Linked DNA regions of Homo sapiens. The protein of the gene in region 1 purifies or fractionates together with the protein of each later gene. This does not show direct contact. Each region holds a gene or a part of one and is shown on either strand. Other genes may lie near its edges. The genes, in order: GLYR1, NEFH and LCP1.

The links.
Region 2: the proteins of GLYR1 (region 1) and NEFH purify together in Homo sapiens (affinity purification with mass spectrometry, with the first as the bait; one large-scale study listed by BioGRID). This does not show direct contact.
Region 3: the proteins of GLYR1 (region 1) and LCP1 purify together in Homo sapiens (affinity purification with mass spectrometry; 2 studies listed by BioGRID and IntAct, with this or other methods). This does not show direct contact.

What each region holds. Positions count from the first base shown.
Region 1 is NC_000016.10:4,833,767-4,837,416, reverse strand, and holds part of GLYR1 (cytokine-like nuclear factor N-PAC), read left to right. Parts: intron 1-3,650. UniProt on the Homo sapiens protein: Cytokine-like nuclear factor with chromatin gene reader activity involved in chromatin modification and regulation of gene expression. Acts as a nucleosome-destabilizing factor that is recruited to genes during transcriptional activation.
Region 2 is NC_000022.11:29,486,718-29,490,367, forward strand, and holds part of NEFH (neurofilament heavy polypeptide), read left to right. Parts: intron 1-2,131; coding exon 2,132-3,650. UniProt on the Homo sapiens protein: Neurofilaments usually contain three intermediate filament proteins: NEFL, NEFM, and NEFH which are involved in the maintenance of neuronal caliber. NEFH has an important function in mature axons that is not subserved by the two smaller NF proteins.
Region 3 is NC_000013.11:46,179,978-46,183,727, reverse strand, and holds the start of LCP1 (plastin-2), read left to right. Parts: upstream 1-1,550; 5' UTR 1,551-1,617; exon of another isoform or gene 1,618-3,750.

The DNA.
Region 1 (3,650 bases):
CTCTGTCGCCCATGCTGGAGTGCAGTAGCACGATCTGCACTCACTACAACCTCCACCTCCCGGGTTCAAGCAGTTCCTGCCGCAGCCTCCTAAGTAGCTGGGATTACAGACGTGTGCTACCACAACTGGCTAATTTTTGTGTTTTCTGGTAGAGATGGGGTTTCGCCATGTTGGCCAGGCTGGTGTCGAATTCCTGGCCTCAATCCACCTGCCTCGGTCTCCCAAGGTGCTGGGATTCAGGCATGAGCCACCGCACCGGGCCCTACATGTATGATTTTCATTTAAGAGGAAAGCAAATCAGAAGTGTGCAAGTTTTTGAAAATACCAGATTTTAATTCATTTTGATTGGAGTAATCTGAGAGTGCCTTAGTGGCGGTTCTGTATTCATAGATGAAGAGACTTTTTATAGGAAGAGTGTCAGGTCACCAGGGTAAATTGGCTGTGTTACAGGTGCAGTTATGCCAGCAGCCAGGCAGCAGCAACCCACCAGAGCAAACCTGCAAACCAGGAAGTCATGGAGGAAACCCTCTGGGCAGTCGGCATAGCCTGTGTTCTAGGGCAGAGGCCTTTAGTATTGATTTGTTTTGTTTTTTTTTTTTTTTTCCAATATAATATGTGTTCACCATTCAAAAACAAAAACTTGTCAACATTGAAACAGTTGCATTCATCCCCATCCCACAGCCACCCAGTTAGACCAGTTTCTGATGATGTGTCCCTCCAGAGATATCAGTGCGTGGTCAGTCCATTTTCCTTGTCTTTGCACGAGTGGTAGCACATAACATGCATTGCTTTTTATCTTGCTCATCTCCACGTAGCCAGATATCTTACGAGACATCCGCTTTCCTTCTCTGTAATGACCTTGCCTGTTTTCAGCTATTTACTATCACAATGTGTCATTCATTCTACTGTACATAAAAAGCAAAGTCTCCTACTTTAAATACAGCTTGAATAAGCTTGATTTTTCTGACTTCCCAGCCACAATTGGGCTGAAAGATATAGCTCCATCTAAGTCTTGGGAGGATGATAGGAAAATCAAAAGTTACAGCTTCTATCAAGGAAAGAAACAGTCACTTAAAAAACCAACAGTAGCAACAACAAAAACACTAAAGCCTTACGCACTGGAGCATTGTAGCACCTTTTAACTCACTGGTGAGCAGTACATCCTCCTGAACATCTGGGAAGGAATCATTTACCCAGTGATTATTTATTGAGGACCAGTGGTGTGCCAGGCCCGGCTGATGTGCCTCCGTGAATTAGACAGTGGTGCATTGTTGAGGCGCCAACTGAAAAGCATATTCTCATTAAAAAGACAGAGGTAGGCCAGTTGCAGTGGCTCATACCTGTAATCCCAGCACTTTGGGTGGCTGAAGTGGGCAGATTACTTGAGTTCAGGAGTTCGAGACCAACCTGGGCAACATGGTGAACCCCATCTCTATAAAAAATAAATTTAAAAAAGATGAAAGAAGTGTAACCTTTAGAGAAAAAATTGTATTCAGATAGCCAAAGTGATTTAAGTTTGGTTTGCTTTCAAGAGGTAATCCCCATAGAGCTCTGGTAAGCTGGGTTTTTTTGTTGTTACTGTTTTTGAGGTGGAGTCTCACTCTGTTGCCCAGGCTGGAGTGCAGTGGCACAATACTGGCTCACTGCAACCTCCGCCTCCTGGGTTCAAGTGTTTCTCCTGTCTCAGCCTTCCGAGTAGCTGGGATTACAGCTGCGTGCCACTACACCCAGCTAATTTTTATATTTTCAGTAGAGACGAGATTTCACCATGTTGGCCAGGCTGGTCTCAAACTCCTAACCTCAGGTGATCTGCCTGCCTCGGCCTCCCAAAGTGCTAGGATTACAGGTGTGAGCCACCGTGCCCAGCCAAGCTGGTTTTTTATGGCTGTTTTTTGATGTAACAGGATGCTTCTCCAGCAATAAGTTGATTCCTTAAATAGATTAACATTTCTTGGATTTACCATCCTATTCATACTGTCAGTTCATTTAGCCATTTTAATGTTTCGAAGATGGTTGTAAAGAGGAAAATTTTAGTATCTCAAATGCTTTAAAGTGAGTGGAATTTTGACTGTACAGTTCCTTCTAGCAGAAATCAGTAAACCTTGTAAGATGCTTCAACAAAAAATGGGGTTGATTCCTTGGCACTTCACAGACATCCTCACCTTTCTGTTCCCTCAGAATCGGGTTCCTGTGAGGCTGGGTAGTGGGAGGCAGGGATGGAGGTAGCAGGATGGCGTGGGTGGGATTAGCAAGTCTCGGAGTCTGTTGTCCCATCTCAAGGGGTTCCATAAAAATCACCTTTTTGGTCCTATATTGGGAACTTGTGTGGTTCTCAGCTTCTGACCAGAAGCTCCTAGGAAGAACTGGCTGGTCACGACTCCTTAAGCTTCATCCTTGATACTGGTTGTGTCATCTCAGACCCACGGGTTAGTATGGTAGCTTCACTGGCTTTTGGGGCTGGGTCTGACTTTGCATCTGATTGCTCTGGCCTGTCATTAGCATCCCTGTAAGGAGAGGGAACGGAGTCAGTTCAGGGATATTCTTGCCAGAAAATCTGGGGTCGAAATCTCCTTCCACTTTTCCTCCCAGCAGATTGGACTCATTGGCGCTCTCATGTTGAATTTCAAACTTTAAGATGAGTTGGTCACTGGAAAGGAGTTTGCTGGCTCACACCTGTAATCCCAGCACTTTGGGAGGCCAAGGCAGGTGGATCACTGGAGGCCAGAAGTTCAAGACCAGCCTGGCCAACACAGGGAAACCCCGTCTCTACTAGAAACATAAAAATTAGCTGGGTGTGGTGGTGCATACCTGTAGTCCCAGCAACTCGGGAGATAGAGGCAGAATTGCTTGAACCTGGGAGGTGGAGGCGGAGGTCGCAGTTAGCTAAGATCGTGCCACTGCACTTCATCCTAGGTGACAAAATGAGACTCTGTCTCAAAAAGGAAAAAAAAAAGGCCAGGTGTGGTGGCTCACGCCTGTAATCCCAGCACTTGGGAGGCTGAGGCAGGAGAATCACTTGAACCTAGGAGGCGAGGTTGCCGTGAGCCAACATCGCCCCATTGCACTCCAGCCTGGGCAACAAGAGTGAAACTCCGTCTCAAAAAAAAAAAAAAAAAAAAAAGGAATTTGCCTAACTCCTCTAGTTGGAGCTGTGCCAGGGAGACCAGCTTCTGTATCTCCATTCATCATCTCACTTAGCCATGGTGGCATGCCTGATAGTGGTTCGCTGCCTGACATCTGCAGGCCGATGATCCCAGGTCTGTGTTTTTGCACAGACCCCATTATCACAACTACCAGCAGCACACTCAAAGTCCAGGTAGCTGGTGGAGGGTTAGTAACATTATTTTTATGTGCAAAGGTTAACACTTGCTGTTAGTGAATATTCTCTAGCTTTCTATGAAGAAAACAACCTGAAGCTTGTGAGATAGCTGGGTTTCTGTATCCTTAACCTGACCTACTTTTTCTGAAGGTTATGCTGTGAAACCTGTATCACAGGCTAAAACATGTAAACTAACTGATACCTTGTAAAGCCTATAAAATTATTTTGTGCTTGGATTCTATAAGCTGCATGCCATTCAGGGAAGCCATAGAAAGCCAGCTGCAGCAGATTTGTTCAGGTTAGTGTGACAGATCAGAAACCCCAGAATTGA
Region 2 (3,650 bases), on another chromosome or scaffold:
TCGCTATGTTGGCCAGGCTGGTCTCGAACTCCTGACCTCAGGTGATCCGCCTACCTCGGCCTCCCAAAGTGCTGGGATTACAGGCGTGAGCCACTGTGCCCAGCCAATGAGTCTTGAGAGTGACTTACTTTCATTCTGAAATGATTTAGACGGTGGAAGTTCCTTATCCCCTCCCCAGATCCAGCCAGCCAGAGGCCTGCTTTGAAGGGAAAAGAGGTGCTTGAGTCAGGGACCTTTCAAACTCTGTCCTTTAGAGTTTCTTAGCTCTGCAAGCATTCATTTCTTGGGGATATAAAGTGGAGATGATAATAAGGGCAACCATGTCATAGGGTTGTCAGGAAGATGAGCTAATCCCATTCCCAAGCTAATCCAGGAAGCACAGGTACCACTGGGCTGCTACAGAGGGAACCCTTAGTCAGTGGCAGCCTTGAGAAATCCAGTCTGAGGAATAAGACCGGGGGGAGCAGGGCTAGGGAGCAGGACTGATTCCCTGAGGACTTGTCCCAGTTCTGACTGGTGACCTGTGGCTTCCTACCTCTTGGCTCTCGTCTGTAATCTTGCTACTCAAAGCATGGCACATGAACCAGCAGAATTGGCATCATTCAAGAGCTTATCAGAAAGATAGTCTCTTGGTTGGGTGTAGTGACTCATGCCTGTAATCCCAGCACTTTGGGAGACCAAGGCAGACAGATTGTTTCAGTTCAGAGACCAAGCTGGGCAGCATGGCAAAACCCCATCTCTACAAAAAATACAAAAAAAAAAAAAATAGCTGGGCATGGTGGCACATGCCTTTAGTCTCAGCTACTCAGGAGGCTGACGTGGGAGGATCACCTGAGCCTGGGAGTTGGAGGCTTCAGTGAGCTATGATCGTGCCACTGCACTCCAGCCTGTCATCACAGAGTGAGACACTGTCTCAAAAATAACAACAACACAACAACAACAAAAGACAGACGCTCAGCCCCTCCCCAGACCTGCTGAATCAGAATCTGCATTTTGATAAGATCCCCGGTCATCTGTGTGCTGCTAAATTTGGGAAGTACTAGTCTGAGGGGTAACCCCCACACTTACTCTGAGACAAGCATTCTGCCAAGTCTTTTCCATTCATTGTCTCACTGAAACAACCCTCTGACGTAGGGACTCTAATGACCCTCTTTTTCCAGTGAGGAAATTGAGGCTCAAAGAGTTGGTGTGTCTTGGCCAAGGTCACCCATCTAGTGAGGAGCAAAGCCAAGAGGAGAAACTGCGGCCTCTACCCTATTCCTGAAACTCAAAAGATGGTAATACAGGGTGATGAGAGACACTCGCGATTCAAATGGGAGCGTTCTAAGACCTCTTAAACCCAAATTTATAAAAGTAGAATTGTGGTCGGGTGCGGTGGCTCACACCTGTAATCCCAGCACTTTGGGAGGCCTAGGCGGGTGGATCGGCTGAGGTCAGGAGTTCGAGACCAGCCTGACCAATATGGTGAAACCCCCGTCTCTACTAAAAATACAAAAATTAACTGGACGTGGTGGCGTGCGCCTGTACTCCCAGCTACTCAGTAGGCTGAGACAGGAGAATTGCTTGAAGCTGGGGGAATTGCTTGAATCTGGGAGGCAGAGGTTGCAGTGAACTGAGATTGTACCACTGGACTCCAGCCTAGGTGACAGAGCAAGACTCCGTCTCAAAAAAAGGAAAAAAAAAAGTGGAATTGTTTGCTCAGGCTCCCAGGGTTCTCTTGAATAATATTTTAGTTTGAGGGACAATAAATTTAACTTTTGTTAAATTTATTTAGGAGCTTTCTCTTGAGGGCCATTTTTTATGGGGCAAAAGTTGTTTTATTTCAAAAGTTTCAGGCTTAGCTGTGTTGAAGAAGACCAGCTGTTCCAGCCTGGGCAACACAGTGAGACCCTCTCAAAAACAACAACATCAACAAAAAAAGACCAGTCCCACCGGGGTACACATTCTGGGTGGTCACTGGAATGATTTGCCAAGTGACTTTCTCTAGTCTCATAATGCCCACCATTCACATTCCTGTTCCACCAAAACCCATATCATTCGATGTCAGTGACCTTCAGGATAGTCTAGGAAGAACCCAAATAGTGAATTTGCCCTGAGTTTATACTAATGTGTTCCGTGATCCATCCTGCAGAAAACTCCTGGAAGGTGAAGAGTGTCGGATTGGCTTTGGCCCAATTCCTTTCTCGCTTCCAGAAGGACTCCCCAAAATTCCCTCTGTGTCCACTCACATAAAGGTGAAAAGCGAAGAGAAGATCAAAGTGGTGGAGAAGTCTGAGAAAGAAACTGTGATTGTGGAGGAACAGACAGAGGAGACCCAAGTGACTGAAGAAGTGACTGAAGAAGAGGAGAAAGAGGCCAAAGAGGAGGAGGGCAAGGAGGAAGAAGGGGGTGAAGAAGAGGAGGCAGAAGGGGGAGAAGAAGAAACAAAGTCTCCCCCAGCAGAAGAGGCTGCATCCCCAGAGAAGGAAGCCAAGTCACCAGTAAAGGAAGAGGCAAAGTCACCGGCTGAGGCCAAGTCCCCAGAGAAGGAGGAAGCAAAATCCCCAGCCGAAGTCAAGTCCCCTGAGAAGGCCAAGTCTCCAGCAAAGGAAGAGGCAAAGTCACCGCCTGAGGCCAAGTCCCCAGAGAAGGAGGAAGCAAAATCTCCAGCTGAGGTCAAGTCCCCCGAGAAGGCCAAGTCCCCAGCAAAGGAAGAGGCAAAGTCACCGGCTGAGGCCAAGTCTCCAGAGAAGGCCAAGTCCCCAGTGAAGGAAGAAGCAAAGTCACCGGCTGAGGCCAAGTCCCCAGTGAAGGAAGAAGCAAAATCTCCAGCTGAGGTCAAGTCCCCGGAAAAGGCCAAGTCTCCAACGAAGGAGGAAGCAAAGTCCCCTGAGAAGGCCAAGTCCCCAGAGAAGGAAGAGGCCAAGTCCCCTGAGAAGGCCAAGTCCCCAGTGAAGGCAGAAGCAAAGTCCCCTGAGAAGGCCAAGTCCCCAGTGAAGGCAGAAGCAAAGTCCCCTGAGAAGGCCAAGTCCCCAGTGAAGGAAGAAGCAAAGTCCCCTGAGAAGGCCAAGTCCCCAGTGAAGGAAGAAGCAAAGTCCCCTGAGAAGGCCAAGTCCCCAGTGAAGGAAGAAGCAAAGACCCCCGAGAAGGCCAAGTCCCCAGTGAAGGAAGAAGCTAAGTCCCCAGAGAAGGCCAAGTCCCCAGAGAAGGCCAAGACTCTTGATGTGAAGTCTCCAGAAGCCAAGACTCCAGCGAAGGAGGAAGCAAGGTCCCCTGCAGACAAATTCCCTGAAAAGGCCAAAAGCCCTGTCAAGGAGGAGGTCAAGTCCCCAGAGAAGGCGAAATCTCCCCTGAAGGAGGATGCCAAGGCCCCTGAGAAGGAGATCCCAAAAAAGGAAGAGGTGAAGTCCCCAGTGAAGGAGGAGGAGAAGCCCCAGGAGGTGAAAGTCAAAGAGCCCCCAAAGAAGGCAGAGGAAGAGAAAGCCCCTGCCACACCAAAAACAGAGGAGAAGAAGGACAGCAAGAAAGAGGAGGCACCCAAGAAGGAGGCTCCAAAGCCCAAGGTGGAGGAGAAGAAGGAACCTGCTGTCGAAAAGCCCAAAGAATCCAAAGTTGAAGCCAAGAAGGAAGAGGCTGAAGATAAGAAAAAAGTCCCCACCCCAGAGAAGGAG
Region 3 (3,750 bases), on another chromosome or scaffold:
TTTTGCTGCTTTGTAGCGTGAGCAGTGCTGTAACAGTGATGCATGGATGTTCCTCTGGTGTCCTGAAAGAATGTAGGTGCTTCTTGAAAGCTCTCTGCAACTTATTAATTGGGAGTGATTATGCGATGGAGAAAACAGAGTCCCATCACCCCCTCAGTCTTCCCTGGGAAATCACAAGAGGGCTGATAGCTCTCTGTGAGGTGAACCGTTTCTAGAATCCCCACCGTCTCGTCCTGTTCTTCCGCCCACCCAGTTCCTCAAGATAGCCCCTGTGGGCTTCTGATGAAGTCACCACACCACTGGCTAATGAAGTAGATAAACCAGAACAGTTTGGTTTAACATTTAAGGTCAGAAACAGGAACTTTCTAGAGGAGAAATCAAAAAAGCAAAAGAAGTATAAGGGCAGCCCTCCAACCAGTCAGAATACCGTGACCACCTGAGAGGCCCGTGGCCCAGCGGACACGGACGCATGTCAACTCTGGAGCAGATATCTTCAGCGCAGCATCTGACCTGGGAGTACAGCCACATACCCTCATTCCTAAACGGCAGATTGACTACTGGAGTCACACACAGTCTCCGGGCAATGTGGAGACATGTCTAATATTTAGTCAACATAACTCAGGGTGCCACAGTCTTCACAACTGTTGTGAGCACTTGAGGATGCTCCATTTGAAGATAGGAATTTGCCCTCAAGCATCTGGGGTTTGGGTACAGAACAGAGCTTCCCCTGCCACCACCTGCTAATTTTATAAAATGTGCATTCAAAAAAAAATCCTGCCTGTAAGAAGGAATTAAGCTACCCATTTAAATATAACAGCTGCCTGTGCAATCTACTGCTGCTCTTTATAGGAAACGCTTAAATAATTGAGATACTTAATTGGGTTAAAGAGATCCCTAGCACATAGATGTTCTATAAATAAAAGAATGAGTAAATAATCTAGTAACCTTCCTTTTCATGTCCTTCACTTAAAGAGATCGTTCTGTTTTGTTTGCACCAATAAGATCACTGTTAGAGGACTCCAGAGAGGTTTGATTTCAGGTGGGGTGGGGCTTTCCCAAGGAAGTCCCTTTTCATTTGTTTCAGGTGTACTGCCACCTTTTTCCCTGGCTCTTTCACTAAAAATGAAAAATTTGTTGATCTTTGCTGTAAGTAGGTAGGCATCTGGGCTTTGCTTTTGCAACTAGAGTCAAAGAAGTCAAGTTATCAGGCTGATCTTGCCTTGCTATCTAGAATCAGAAAGGTTTAAGTAGCCCAGGGACTACTCAAAGACAGCTGGAGGAGAAAGGGAGAGAGAAAAATGCTTATAAAGAGGTGGGCAAAAGAGCGGGACCTTGTCTCAAAAAAAAAAAAAAAAAAGAGGAAGTGGTAGGAGGTGTCTGAATTTCACTGTGACCTGTTCTGTCAGGTGATTTTTGGTGGGGCGGGGACATGAAAAAAAAGTTAAAATGTCCTTATAAAGACAAAATCTTTTTCTTTCCTGGCTGATGATTTGTCATTCTAGTCACTTCCTGCCTTGTGACCACACACCCAGGCTTGACAAAGCTGTTCTGCAGATCAGAAAGAAGGGGTTCCTGGTCATACACCAGTACTACCAAGGACAGCTTTTTTCCTGCAAGGTAAATGTTCTTCATGTGTTTTTGTTGGTTTTAAGCGCTTGTGATGCACTTCGGCACTGTTTCTGTGGATTGTGGGTTTTGCCTTCAGGGGACCAGAGATCTGAGCATGTCACCTGAGACCTCTGTGATTCCTGCCACTGTCTAACTGGCCAGGACATCTGCCGCCACCTCGCGTGGCCATCCAAGATGGAGCACCTCGGCTCTCTGGGCTGGGTTCTTCTCAACTTATCTGCAGTTATCACCCCTGCCCAAAATTAAGGTTTCTTTTTCCTTTTAAAACCAAACCATGTTCTGGTTTATTTCTATTGCTCTATTTCACGGAGGCTATTTACTGTGATTTTATCTTCTTTAAAATGTTTTCAGGAAAAGCGCGTATTGATAATTTAGATTGTATGGCTTATTGGCCCAATGGGGGTAGTTTAATTTTAGTTCCTGCGGTTCTGTTTTTCTAAAAAACTTCTTTACAGTACTTTAGTGGATAAATTATCTAGAGTCATATGTTACTGAATGTGATACTGGTTATTTGAGTGATTTTTGGCGCCAAGGGTTTTTAATGGGTGTGCTTTATAACCACATGGAATTAGAGGTTTTCTCTTTTCCATTTGTTCTCTAAAAATAAAAGCAATTTGTATAATGCTTAATTGTAGTGTTTTTGTAGGATTGTCTGAATTATTTGTTATGCTTATGACCATATCAATGAATATTCACTCAAATTCTGGGAGAAAGGCTTTTATCTACAATAGAAATTTTTACACAGTTGATATGGGATATTTATTTCAGAAACTGCCCAAACATAGACACTTTGGATTTTGTAGTATAAGCTTTTACTTAATTACCACTATCACATAACACTAAGAACCATTGACAAATGATAACTATAAAAGCCATTCAGACTGGAAATGCGAACATTAATCAGGATGTTTATCAAAACCGAACTTTTCTTTTACACAGCAACTTGTTTTCTAAAATTACTCTGTCAGAACTATCAGTAAGCAAATAAAGGTGGCTTATCCACACACATCTTGATTTTGAATTTACATACATTTGTCATAAGTTTGGTTTCTATTAAGTATAATTGTTTAAAGAATGTCTGTGTAGACAAATTTGAATAGAATTAATCATTTACCTATAAATGTGAATTTCTGGAAACTGCAAAATGTGACCACCAATGTTACTTTGCACATCTCACCTGAATAGTTTCAAACAAGCAAAAATGTGAAACTGAGATAAGAGGGACTTGAACCCCGTAAAAGAACAGACTAAAAATATGTTGTGTCTTATTTTAAGTAAAACTATTAATGAGAATAAAATAAATTCGAATGTGAAGGAATGTCAGTATTTTTCTTATATTTACGAAGGAATAAAAAAGAACTATGCGAAAGTTAATTCAAAATATAAAGGTCCCCTGTTTAAAGTTAAGTTTACATTGCTAAAGCATCAACCCCATATGTTACAAAGATATTCCTCTTCATTCTAGCTCACCCCCAGGAACATCAGGGGAAAAATCTTCTAGGTCTTGCCCTTTGAACAAGCACTGCTGTGGTGGGATGGAGTTGTGCCTAGGAGGACATTTCCTTAGCAATCCCAGAGACCCTTTTCTTTGTAGCATTTAAATTTTTGTCTCTTTTGTAAATTATGCCTTGAAACAATTGGTAATTTGGGAAACAATTTCAGTGCTTTAACTTCATTTATAATTCTATCTCTGAACCCTTTGGGGAAGGGAAGACCAACAAGTAAAGTCTCATTTACTTGTTGTTAAAGTACCATTTAACTTGGAGAGGACAGGAAATTAATAATAGCACTCAATAATTATGAGCACGTAGTGTAAGCAGCTACTCTTTATGCATTACCTCGTTTAATCCTCTCAGCTACCTTTAGAGATAAGGAATGGGCTAGATAATTGAAGGAACCGGCCATAGGTCACTGGGCAGTTGGGGTGGGGGGCAGTAGATGGCCAGGATTTCAGGCTCCTACTGACTGTGTGTGTTACAGATCCTCCCTTCCAGGCCAGCATATTTTTCTCAGAGGTAGGTGATTATAGACTTTTATTACTGAAGCTAGCTAACAAGATCTTGGCACTCACAGTTTTAAGAGAGAATAAAAGAGAGAGAGCAAGAGAAAGAAGAGAGAGAG